Regions from separate parts of the Homo sapiens genome. Here all the other regions are linked to region 2. Evidence: fine-mapped expression QTL. A gene starts in region 2. Each other region holds a variant in brackets. All regions are shown on one strand. Distances are between the middles of the regions. Region 1 has its middle 28 kb from the start of TNPO3. Region 2 holds the start of TNPO3 (transportin 3). Region 3 has its middle 23 kb from the start of TNPO3.

Evidence for each region. PIP is the estimated chance that this variant, and not a neighbour inherited with it, causes the effect. A credible set is the group of variants that fine-mapping cannot tell apart.
Region 1: its variant is the best candidate, but not a certain one, in a credible set for the expression of TNPO3 in whole blood (TOPMed, PIP 0.66).
Region 3: its variant is the best candidate, but not a certain one, in a credible set for the expression of TNPO3 in whole blood (INTERVAL, PIP 0.59).

Annotation. Positions count from the first base shown.
Region 1 is chr7:129,081,408-129,085,649 of GRCh38, reverse strand. No RefSeq gene overlaps it. Among named protein-coding and RNA genes, the nearest start is that of TNPO3, 28 kb to the right of the region's middle. The variant C/T (reference allele first, on the strand shown) is at 2,509.
Region 2 is chr7:129,052,969-129,057,210 of GRCh38, reverse strand. TNPO3 (transportin 3) reads left to right here and starts at 2,100. Exons shown (of 23, transcript NM_012470.4): 1 at 2,100-2,560. The coding sequence starts at 2,441. It also overlaps the pseudogene TPI1P2. RefSeq lists a silencer at 962-1,256 and enhancers at 962-1,256, 2,068-2,567.
Region 3 is chr7:129,075,630-129,079,871 of GRCh38, reverse strand. No RefSeq gene overlaps it. Among named protein-coding and RNA genes, the nearest start is that of TNPO3, 23 kb to the right of the region's middle. The variant C/G (reference allele first, on the strand shown) is at 1,899.

The DNA.
Region 1 (4,242 bases), 28 kb before region 2:
ATTCATATACTGGCTTTTGTGTAGACACATTTTCTCATTTCTCTTGGGTATATACACTTAGGAGTGAAATTTTGGGGTCAAAAGATACCTCTATGTTTAAATGTTTGAGAAACTGCCAGACTGTTTTCCAAAGTGGCTGCATCATTATACAAGTCCACTCACTAGCAGGGTATGAGAGTTCCAATTTCTCCCTACCCTCACTAACAGTTGCTTTTGTCTGTTTTTTAAATTTTTGTCATCCGAATGGGTGCGCAGTGATATCTCATTGTGGTTTGTTTTTAGTAACAGCTTTATTGAGAGATAATTCAAATAGCGTACGACTCACCCACTTAAAGTACATGCAGTAATGTGGATAGATCTTAAAATAATTAGACCAAGTGAAATAAACCAGACAAGAGTAAGGACTTTTGAATAAAAGCTATGTTAACTGGAAATAAAAGAATAAATATTGTACGATTGTATTCCTATAAAATTCTAGAAAATATAAACCAATCCATAATTACAGAAAGCAGATAAGGGACAATGGGGGGTTGAGGAGAGAGTTTGGGGGAAGTTTCCAGGAAGAAGGGATCACAGGAGGACACAAGGAAACTTTTGGGGGCTGATATTTATTTTTATTATCTTTTTTTTTTTTTTGACAGCCTCTCACTCTATCGCCCAGGCTGGAGTGCGGTGGCATGATCTCAGCTCACCGCAACCTCCACCTGCCGGGTTCAAGTGATTCCTGTGAACCACCGTGCCTGGCCTATTTTCATTATCTTGACTGTGGTCATGGTTTCACGGGTGTATATGTATGTCAAATCTTATCCAATTACACTATAAACATGTAGTTTACTGTATGTCAATTATATCTCAGTAAAGCTATTTTGAAAGAATACAAAGGACTCTACAATATTCTGTCACCTCCCCTTTGTCATGTCACTATACTTTTACCCTGAAAGCTCCCTCCAAACCATATCCCTTAAAATTTATTTATTTATTTATTTATTTATTTATTTTGAGACGGAGTTTCACTCTCGTTGCCCAGGCTGGAGTGCAATGGCGTGATCTCGGCTCACCGCAACCTCTGCTGCCCAGGTTCAAGCAATTCTCCTGCCTCAGCCTCCCGAGTAGCTGGGATTACAGGCACCTGCCACCGCACCCAGCTAATTTTTTTTGTAGTTTTTAGTACAGACGGGCTTTCACCATCTTGGCCAGGCTGGTCTTGAACTCCTGACCTCATGATCCACCCACCTAGGCTTCCCAAAGTGCTGGGGTTACAGGCGTGAGCCACCGCGCCCGGCATGACCTCTGTTTTATACCATTAACTATGAGATTAACAAAAACCTTTACCTTTGTGCAGAAGGTTAAAAAAAAAAAAAGCATAGTCAAGGAAAAGGAGATGTGTTACCTCTTCATACACTCCTACAACCATGGCATTGCAAAAAATAAAAATAACCACCTTTAAAAAAAAACCTAATTTAAATTGCTGTTCAATAATAATAATATATGTAAGATGATTAGATCAGTTCCTGGCATATGGTAAATATAGGTAAGTGTTTGCTATTTATTTTTGAAGCAAAAATGAGGATTTGTCAAAAATTGGGTGAGCAGCTACTTATGGAGGATAAAAGAACCTTTCAGGCTGTTTGGGAAAAGCTTCATTCTAAGTTTCTTCTTTGTAAGAGGACCTATTGCTGCCAGCACTTCTCTTGCTAACAATTCTGGTGGGTGATTTATCTTCGTTCTGCATTTCTTTCCGTAGCTCCTGTAGACATTGAAGGTAGGGTGAACCTGTTACTAAGGGGAGATACAAAAGTAGTGCAGGGGGTAAGATTAATCGCATGGGAATGAAATATGCTCTGAGCTTCTGAACATTTGTTACGTGAACCTGAGGAATGAAATGATATACTGAGCACTCCACAAGCTGTTTTTTCCGGTCAGTTGTCTGGTCAGAAATTTGTTAACTCACTCCTCCCTGATTCATCACACTGTCAGAAAGCTTGTATAACACGGAGTCTGAAGCATTCCAGAATCTTTCTTTTTTCTTTTTTTTAATAGAAATGAAGTCTTGCTATGTTGCCCAGGCTGGTCTCAAACTCCTGGGCTCAAGTGACCCTCCCACCTTGGCCTCCCAAAGTGCTAAGATTACAGGTGTGAGCCACCACATCCAGCCTAGAATCTTAAATTTACTATTGTACTTTGGGACCACAAGAACTTAAAAGTAAGAGGAATAAAATTATCATGAATATTAGTTAGAATTCAGTTTGATAATAACAGAAAAAACCTAAAACACCGGCTGGACGAGGTAGCTCATGCCTATAATCCCAGCACTTTGGGAGGCCAAGGTGGGTGGATCACGAGGTCATGAGACCATCCTGGCCAACATGATGAAACCCCGTCTCTATTAAAATACAAAAAAGGTTAGCTGGGTGTGGTGGTGCAGGCCTGTAGTCCCAGCTACTTGGGAGGCTGAGACAGGAGAATCGCTTGAACCCTGGAGGTGGAGGTTGCAGTGAGCTGAGATTG[C/T]GCCACTGCACTCCAGCCTGGGCAACAGAGTGAGACTCCGTCTCAAAAAAAAAAAAAAAAAAAAAGAAGAGGAAGGGGAATTATTACATCAGAGGGCAATTAGCAATCATTTTTTTTTTTTTTTTTTTAGATGGAGTCTCGCTGTGTCACCTAGCCTGGAGTGCAGTGGCTCGATCTTGGCTCACTGAAACCTCCACCTGCCAGGTTCAAGTGTTTCTTGTGCCTCAGCCTCCCGAGTAGCTGGGACTACAGGCGTGCACCACCATGCCAGGCTAATTTTTGTATTTTTAGTAGAGACAGGGTTTCACCATGTTGTTCAGGCTGGTCTCGAACTCCTGACCTCAAGTGATCGGTCTGTCTTGGCCTTCCAAAGTGCTAGGATTACAGGCGTGAGCCACCGTGCCCGTCCTAATCATAGAAAGTTAATAATAAGATCAATATATAATTAGCATGTGACAAAAAAGCCTGGCTCCTAGGATTTGATTGTTTAAATTAAAAGATTGAAAAAAATCTGTTTGTTAGAAGGGGCATTGTTTAGCATGGATTCTTGGAAGAGGACACTTCTGGGAGGTGGACATAGGCATTGCCCATCCATGTATTGGGCACAAAGGAAATCACAGCCTTTAAATGACAAAACAACTTATAATGGAGATGTGGAGGCAGGAGGTTGTAACCAATGGGATGTGAGTACTCTGCAGTAAGTAACCTGTTGGTGAGACCACCTCTATTATAGGATGACTGGCCTAGGCTATCTTAGCCTCACCTGTTACCACTGAACCCTGGGGCTTCGTCTAATTTCCATGTGTTTTCCATGGCCACTTGGCAGTCAACTTTCTCATTTTCATGGCGACCTACCGACCAGAGAGAATATGCTGCAGAGAGAGACTTGTAGGGGAGAAGTAGCTGACCCTGTAACAGTCCCAATTATCATGGTCAATGAGTGAATTGGCAGCCCGGCGTCTCCCTCAGCCTCCTATGTCCCTTTTCCAATGTGAGTCTGTTCTCAGAGTCTGGTCCTCGCTGTGTATTGCCAGGGGTGAACCTGTGGTCCTTCAGGGTGGAAGTTCTGATCCTGAAAAGTGTGATTGCCTGGCCAGGCGCAGTGGCTCACGCCTGTAATCCCAGCACTTTGGGAGGCCGAGGTGGGTGGATCACGAGGTCAGGAAATCTAGACCATCCTGGCCAACATGGTGGAACCCCATCTCTACTAAAAATATAAAAAATTAGCTGGGTATGGTGGTACGCACCTGTAGTACCAGCTACTCGGGAGGCTGAGGCAGGGGAATCGCTTGAACCTGGGAGGCGGAGATTGCAGTGAGCCAAGATCACGCCACTGCACTCCAGCCTGGCGACAGAGCAGACTCCATCTCAAAAAAAAAAAAAAAAAAAAAAAAGGTGATTGCCCTGAAGGAGACTTTTCCAGCTCCAAACCACTTCCCTTAGATGACATCAATCAGCTCTCTGCTGGTTCGAAGAATATGTTGAAAACAGTGTCAGAGTTAGCTATTTTCATTTTATTATAGTTCTTTGAGAACTGGGAAGAGACAGTGGGAGTGTCTTGGAATATATATTAGGTTTGGTATCAAGAAACTGGTCTAAATTCTGTTATTGCCAGTAACTACCTTTAAACCTCAGTTTCCTCATTCATTTGTAAAGTGGAGCAAACTCATAGCTGTCTTGCTCGCCTTAAAGCTTTTAATGCAAATGGTAAAACTCCTTTCTAAAGTAGATTAT
Region 2 (4,242 bases):
TGCCAGGGGTTTATTTCCCTCACATGTGGGATGGCTCACATACACAACACACAAAGGCGTTGGCACCGTGGGAGAGGGCAGCACCCCTGGCTTCTGCTTGGCCTCACAGTGTAAGAAGGGAGAGGATGGGTTCTCTCTCCTCCCCTCACTAGGGCCTAGGGGACCCAGGAGCAAATTCCATCCCTTTCACCTCTCAGCCAAGGAGAAGCCACATTGGTGACATTTAGTTCCAACAATTACAGTAAGTGGAGAAGGGATTGGTCTGGTCCCGACCATTACACGGTGAAGGTATACATAGTAAAGGAAGATACAGTTTGGATGAGGCCACAATAGGGTGCAGATGACACCATCAGAAGCATGTGCAGGGGAGGGGCAGTCACTCAGCTTCTGGGCTGCTTAGTTCCTGGGTTGGCAGGAAGGGTAGGGAAGACGGATGGGGCTCATTGTTTGGCATTGATGATGTCTACGAATTCGGGCTTGAGGGAAACACCACTCATGAGGAAGGCAGCCACGTCAGGCTGGCTGGCCAGCTCCTTGCAGGTTGCCTTGGTCACAGAGCCTCCATAAATGATACCAGTGCTCTGAGCCACTGCATCAGAGATGTTGGACTTAAGCCATCCTCGGAGCTTCTTGTGTACCTCCTGGGCCTGTTGGGGTGTTGCAGTCTTGCCAGTACCAGTGGCCCACACGGGATCATAGGCCAAGATGACCTTGCTCCAGTCCTTCACATTATCTGCGATGACCTTTGTCTGCTCAAAAACAACCTTCTCAGTGATGCCAGCTTCCCTTTCATCTAGCTTCTCCCCAATGCAGGCGATTACTCCGAGTCTCTCTGCCAGAGCATGGGCCACTTTTCTGCCCAATCAGCTCATCTGACTCCCCAAAGACACGCCTTCTGAGTGCCCCAGGACCACACCACCCACGTGACTCCTAAGTCTTTGACCATGCCAGGGCTGATCTCCCCAGTAAAGGCCCCATTAGTCACTTTGTAGCAGTTCTGCGGAGCCACAGCAATCTTGGGAGCTAGCTTCTGCCGGGCCAACTCGTTATACGCAGTGGCGAGAGCACAAATCACCTTGGTGTCGGCAGGCACAGTGGCCGCGTTCTGAGTGCCGATGAGCTCCCCCAGACATTTCTTCCGCCCGTTCATCTTCCAGTTCCTCCCCACGAAGAACTTCCTGGAGGGCGCCATGGCGCTGGAGCTGAGGCGCTGTAGGTCAGTGTCAGCGCCTAAAACGGGTTTTATTAATACTTGGCAAGGTTGTTAGGCGGATTAAATGAGATCTTGTAACTACAGTGTTTTACACATTGTGATCATTTATCAAATAGCAGTTATTTACTAGTGCAAAGGACTAGCAGCAATGTTAATATCAATATACTGTTACCTTTTGTCCCTAATTTCTCCATAGTACAGTTTCCAATATTTCTGTTTTCTTTTGTGAATTGTTAGACCACTGGTATTGGATTCGGACAGAAAGGCATTCACAAAAATACAGTTCAATGTGAGAATAACCCTAAAGATGTATGCAAAATGCTCTGGAGTTAGAGCACCAGGAGCTGTAAGCAGAATGAAGACCTCTTTTGGGCTTAAGAACTAAGTAAAGGGGAGCTGAACAAAGATTCTAGGCATTTTGGATTTATCTCAATGTGGCACATATTTCAGGTTTGTAAAATAGTTCAGTTGACTACGTGTCTGTCTCCTCCACTAGAGCCAGCGTAGGTACCATGTCTTAAGTCATCTTTGGATCTCCAGTACTGTGGCCACTCTAGGGAGAGTTGAATTGACGCGCCTTGATCACCAGGGCAGAAAAGGATTCTCTGGAGAGGGATGGGGCAGTCGGAAGGGGTAGGAAAAACCTGGATCCGTTTCCAAGGAGCTGAAGGCAGCTCAGATATGGGGCACATCTCGGCGCTAATGTCCCAAGCTGCTAGCGAGGAACAGAGAGAACACCGGCTCTTCTTCCCGGCTCCTGGCCCGGCAGGGTTACTTCCGGGAGGGGGCGGGGAGACAAGAGGAGGCGTGCCGGGAAGGAGGCCGTTTGTAGTGTACCAGGCGGAAGTGTGCCAAAGGTATCGGTGCTGTCGCTTCCGGTCCGGGTAAACGAACCTTAGGTACACTGGTGTGTGGCCTCCCAAGATAGGCTTCTGAGGGCAAGTCAGCGACTGAAGACGGGAGCGCCAGAATCTGTGGACTCAAGAGTCTAGAATCAAGTGGAAAAACCGGAAAAAAGGCCAGGAACCTGAATACGACCTAATAGCTGTTTCCGAGGGGGCAACTTCCACGGAGAGCCTTCTGCCCTGGTAACGGCCAAAGAGGAGGAGATGGCGCCAGTCAGGGAGCGGCCGTGGCCCAGACAGTGAGGAAGCGCGAAGGCGGAGCAACCGAGGAATCCTCCGGAGAAGAATCAGAGCCGTCGCTACCGCCACTACCGCCACCACCATGGAAGGAGCAAAGCCGACATTGCAGCTCGTGTACCAGGCAGTGCAGGCGCTTTACCACGACCCAGATCCCAGCGGAAAGGAGCGCGCCTCTTTTTGGCTTGGGGAGCTGCAGCGTTCGGTGAGGGGCCCAGAGAGGCAGTTCTGTGCCGCACGGCCGGGGCGGGGTGGAACCTAGGCTCCGGGGGAGAACCTGAGCCCGGCAGTTGACCTCGTGAGGTCCTCCTTGGGGAGGAGCTGCTGTCGTGGGGTGGGGCTGCGAAGCTACATCTTTGCCGCTTTTGGGAAACTAGTCGCACCTGATCGGTCGCGAACTGGCCCTTTCCCCACCCGGCAGAATCTGATTTGTAGGTCTTATACTCTTCGATTGTGGCATCAATCTAATCTTGTTTAAGTTCTCCCTTTGCCGTTGCTTCTTGGGCCGTGCTTTTCCGTTTTGTCTTCCTCCCACCAAATCCAACCCCAGTGTTTCTCCACCTTCCGCTTAAGAAGGCTTTATTCGTCTCCCCTCCGTGTCCAAGACTTGCATCTGGCATTTTGCTCCCAGTCGTAGCCTTATGCCTCACTCTTTTTGCCTATTTTCACTCCAGTTTGAGTCTGTTCTTCTCGAAACTTCTCAGGTTTCTAGATTCTTACTCATGCGAGTTTTCCCCTTGCTTTGGAGTGGCAACATAATATGAAGAAAAAACAGTAATTCTGCTTTCAGAAAATCTTTGGAGTTCTCATTTTGTTTCATATTAATCCTCTAACCTTGTTATTTCTCTGGCTTTTAGATTTTTATTTATAAGATGGGTATCACTGCTGCTTTGATTATTCCATATAAAACTGTGTGTGCATCCGGTGAGATATTTAATTGTAGCTTATATCTGTTGTATTTCTGCATTCTTTGATTCATGTTTTATGCTTCCTGCCCTAATTTTCACACCTTTGCTGTGCTTCATTTCTGTGTAAATGTGTATTCTTGGTTATCTGGCTGACTTAGGTTCTAATGTAGGATGTACTTTAAAAATTAAGTACTTTGAAAACTAAAGAGGCTTTTTTTACAGGCTGACAAAATACTCACCTTTACCTTTATTTTTGCATTTTATACTCACAACCATATTTTTTTTGGCCCCCTTCCCTTTATTTTAACTCATAACTGATACTTAAAGGTGCTCTGCCTTATTAAATCAGCTCCTAGGCTGCAAGTGCATAATATTTAAAAATTTGCAACTTTGACTTTTTAAAAATCTGGTCTTGGTATGGAGCAACTTTGCCTTTTTTTTTTTTTTTTTTTTGAGACAGAGTCTCGCTTTGTCGCCCAGGCTGGAGTGCAGTGGTCCCATCTCAGCTCACTGCAACCTCCTCCTCCCGGGTTCAAGAGATTCTCCTGCCTCAGCCTCCCGAGTAGCTGGGATTACAGGTGCCTGCCCTGACACCCGACTAATTTTTTTTTTTTTTTCTTGAGACAGAGTCTGGCTCTGTTGCCCAGGCTGGAGGAGTGCAGTGGTGCTATCTCGGCACACTGCAACCTCCTCCTCCCAGGTTCAAGTGATTCTCCTGTCTCAGCCTCCTGAGTAGCTGGGATTACAGGCACACGCCACCACACCCAGCTAATTTTTGTATTTTTTAGTAGAAACGGGGTTTCGCCATGTTGGCCAGGCTGGTCTCTAACTCCGACCTCAGGTGATCCGCCCGCCTCGGCCTCCCAAAGTGCTGGGATTATAGATGTGAGCCATCGCCCCCCGCTGCAACTTTGACTTTGAATATTAAACCTAAAAAACTGGCACCCAAGTCCTCTTCAGAAAATAAAGGAATACGACT
Region 3 (4,242 bases), 23 kb before region 2:
CTTTGGATGAAGTTTTAAAATTTTTGCCTTATAAATTAACACACAGAACAGGCGAGGTGACTCACACTTGTAATTCCAGCGCTTTGGGAGGCCAAGGATTTGGGAGGATTACTTGAGGCCAGGAGTTTGAGACCACCCTGGGCAACATAGCAAGATCCTATTTCTATTAAAAAATTAACAAAGAAGGCTGGGGGTGATGGCTCATGCCTGTCATCCCAGCACTTGAGAGGCTGAGGCAGGCAGATCGCTTGAGGTCAGGAGTTTGAGACCAGCCTGGCCAACATGGTGAAACCCTGTATCTACTAAAAATACAAAAATTAGCTGGGCATGGTGGTGCATGCCCATAGTCCCAGCTACTCAGGGAATTGAGGTGAGAGGATTGCTCGAGCCCAGGAGGTCAAGGCTGCCAGTGAGCTGTGATCACATGCCCCTGGACTCCAGCTTAGGTGACAAAGCAAGACCCTGTGTCCAAAAAGTAAAATAAAAAAATTAAAATTTAAAAAATTAACAAAGAAATTAACATACAGCAATATTGACCCTTTTTTAAAAGTACTACAAGTTTTAACACATGCAGATTCTTTTAACCACCTCCACAATCAGCATACAGAATGGCTTCATCACCCCTCTAAACTCTCTTAGGCTATCTTCTTTTGAGACAAGGTCTCATTCTGTCACCCAGGCTGGAGTGGCATAATCATGGTTCACTACAGCCTTGACCTCCCTGGGCTCAAGTGATCCTCCCGCTTCAGTCTTCCAAGTAGCTAGGACTACAGGTGCACACCACCACACACAGCTAATTTTTTAAGGTTTTTGCAGAGACAGGGTCTCATGTTGCCCAGGCTTGTCTCGAACTCCTGGGCTCAATCAATCCTCCCATCTTGGCCTCCAAAAGTGCTAGGATTATAGGCATGAGCCACCGTGCTTGGCTTTATGCTATCTTTCTGTAATTATATCCTCCCCTCAATTCCATATCCCTAGAAATCATTAATATGTCCTTCAACACTATAGTTTTGTCTTTTCGAGAATGTCATATAATAAAATCATACAATGTGTAACTTTTTTTTTTTTTTGAGACAGGATCTTGCTCTGTTGCCCAAGCTGGAGGTGCATTGGCACAAACATAGCTCACTGCAGCTTTGACTTCCTGATCTCAAGTGATCCTCTCACCTTAGCCTCTAGAGTGGTTGGGACTACAGGTATGTGCCACCACGTATGGCTAATTTTTGCATATTTTGTAGGGATGGGATCCCACTATGTTGCCCAGGCTGGTTCAAACTCCTGGTCTCAAGTGATCCTCCTGCCTTGATCTCCCAAAGTGCTGGGATTACAGGTGTCAGCCACTGCACCTAGTCAATATGTAAGTCTTGAGACTGGCTTCTCACACTCAGTGTAATGCCTCTGAGGATCATCCCAGTTGTTACCAGTGTCATAATTTGTTTCTTTCCATTGTTGACTGGTATCTCATTGTATGAATGTACCAGTGCAAAAAGTTTCTTGGCCGGGTGCGGTGGCTCACACCTGCAATCCCAGCACTTTGAGAGGCCGAGGTGGGCAGATTATAAGGTCAGGAGTTTGAGACCAGCCTGACCCACATGGTGAAACCCCATCTCTACTAAAAATATAAAAATTAGCCGGGCGTGGTGGCGGGTGCCTGTAATCCCAGCTCATCGGGAGCCTGAGGCAGGAGAATCGCTTGAACCAGGGAGGCACAGCTTGCAGTGAGCAGAGATAGCGCCACTGCACTCCAACCTGGGCGACAGAGTGAGATTCCATCTCAAAAAAAAAATAAAAAGTTTCTTTATAGTTTCAGCCACTGAAGAACATCTGGATAATTTCTAGTTGGGGGCAATTATGAATAGCGCTGCTATAAACATTCACATGCAGAATTTTGTGTGCAC[C/G]TATGTCTTCATTTCTGTAAATACGTAAGCGTGGGGTTGCTGGGTCATGTGGTAGGTATATGGTTAACTTTATAAGATGCCAAACTGTTTTCCAAGAGGCTGTACCATTTTCCATTCCTACCGGAAATGTATGAGTTGAAGTTGTTTCACATTCTCGTCAGCACTATTTATTCCTAATATCTTTTTTTTTTCTTTTGAGACAGAGTCTTGCCCTGTTGCCCTGGCTGGAGTGCAGTGGCTCAATCTTGGCTCACTGCAACCTCCACTTCCCAGGTTCAAGCGTTCGAGCGAGGAGTCTCGCTCTGTCGCCTAGGCTAGAGTACAGTGGCTCCATCTCGGCTCACTGCAAGCTCCGCCTTCCGGGGTCACGCCATTCTCCTGCCTCAGCCTCCTGAGTAGCTGGGACTACAGGCACCCGCCACCACACCCAGCTAAGCTTTTTGTATTTTTAGTAGAGTCGGGGTTTCACAGCGTTAGCCAGGATGGTCTCCATCTCCTGACCTTGTGATCTGCCTGCCTTGGCCTCCCAAAGTGCTGGGATTACAGGTGTGAGCCACCGCGCCCAGCCTCAAGCAATTCTTGTGCGTCAGCCACCTGAGTAGCTGGGATTACAGGTGTGCACCACCAGGCCCAGCTAATTTTTGTATTTTTAGTAGAGATGGAGTTTCACCATGTTGGCCAGGTTGGTCTTGAACTCGTGGCCTCAAGTGATCTGCCCACCTCAGCCTCCAAAAGTGCTGGGATTACAGACGTGAGTTGCCATTCCTGGCCTGTTATTTTTTATTTTTATTATTCTATTAAGTGTGTAGTGATATCTTAATTTGTATTTCCCTAATGGCTAATGATGTTGAACATCTTCTCATGTACTTATTTGTCTTCTATATATTTTCTTTGGTGAATTGTCTGTTCAAGTTTTTTGCCCATTTTTAAATTGGGTTGTTTGTCCATTTCTTATGACTGAATTTTGGGAGTTCTTTATATATTCCAGATGCAAATTCTTTGCCATGTATGTGATTTGCAATATTATGCCTCATCTGTAGTTTATTATTTAATTCTTTTAAAATTGTCTTTTACAGAGCAACAGTTCAAGTTTGATGAAAACTGGAAGAAAATATTTTAATAAACGTTTGGGTTAGAGGTAAAAATTAGTGGTCAGTAGAACACCCAAGAAAGGAAACAGCCTCCCTGCACTGTTTGGGGGTGGTAGCTGGCAGGCACCTAAAAACACACCAGTTTTTGAAAACTTCTCTAGCTTTCTCACTGTGTTACTTTCACACTGTGCTATGGTTTGAATGTTTGTGTGCCCCCAAAAGTGATACATTGAAACCTCATCTCCAATATGATGACATGAGCAAGTGGGAGTTTTAAGAGATGAGGTCATGAGGGCAGAGACTTAATCAATAAAATTAGTAACTTTATAAAAGAGGCCCCAGAGAACCTCACGGCCACTTCCACCATGTGAAGACACAGCAAGACGCTGCAATCTATGAACCAAGAAATGGGCCCTCACCAGACACTGCATCTGCCTGTGTCTTGATCTTGGACTTCCCAGCTTCTAGAACTGTAAGAAATCAATTTCTGTTGTGTATCAGCCACCCAGTCTATGGTATCGTAGCCCAAATGGACTAAGACACACTGCTTTCTCAAATATTCTTTCTCATAGTCTCAACAACCATTGTGTCAATGTATTGCCTTCAAACACTTTGAAACGTTGACATTTTCGGAGACTGTGCCAAAAAGGAGGAAATATCCCTTAAGCCAGGCTTCCATCCTGAATTCTACACACAAGATGAAGAGAAGAGATTCTTTTACTCCTTCCAGAAAGGGGTGAAAGAAGGAAAGAGGAAGCTAATAGGAACAGAAAAGCTGTGACCTGCCCATGTGACCATTCCCTGCCACCTCCAAATGGTCACCAAGCATTTCCAGAAATACCTCATGAATGCTCTGAGTTGCTCCATCTACATGATAGGGAGTTCTACGTGGGATTCCTTGCAAGCAGCTCTGATGGCAGGAGGGGAGACCATGGGAAAAGGAGCACTGGGGCTGGCAGAAATCTACAAGGATAGTTTTGGATTTCGACAGCCTGTGGCCTTAGCAGGGAATCTGTGTAAACTCTGCCGGGAATCCCAAGAAATGAGGCAGTGAAGGAGTGGGGGTGGGGTCTCTGCTAACTTCTGGTATGTGCATGCATGTATAAATATAAAAATATCTTTTTTTTTTTTTTTTGAGACAGAGTCTCACTCTGTCACCCAGGCTGCAGTGCAGTCGCATGATCTCAGCTCACTGCAACCTCTGCCTCCCGGGTTCAAGCGATTCTCCTGCCTCAGCCTCCCGAGTAGCTGGG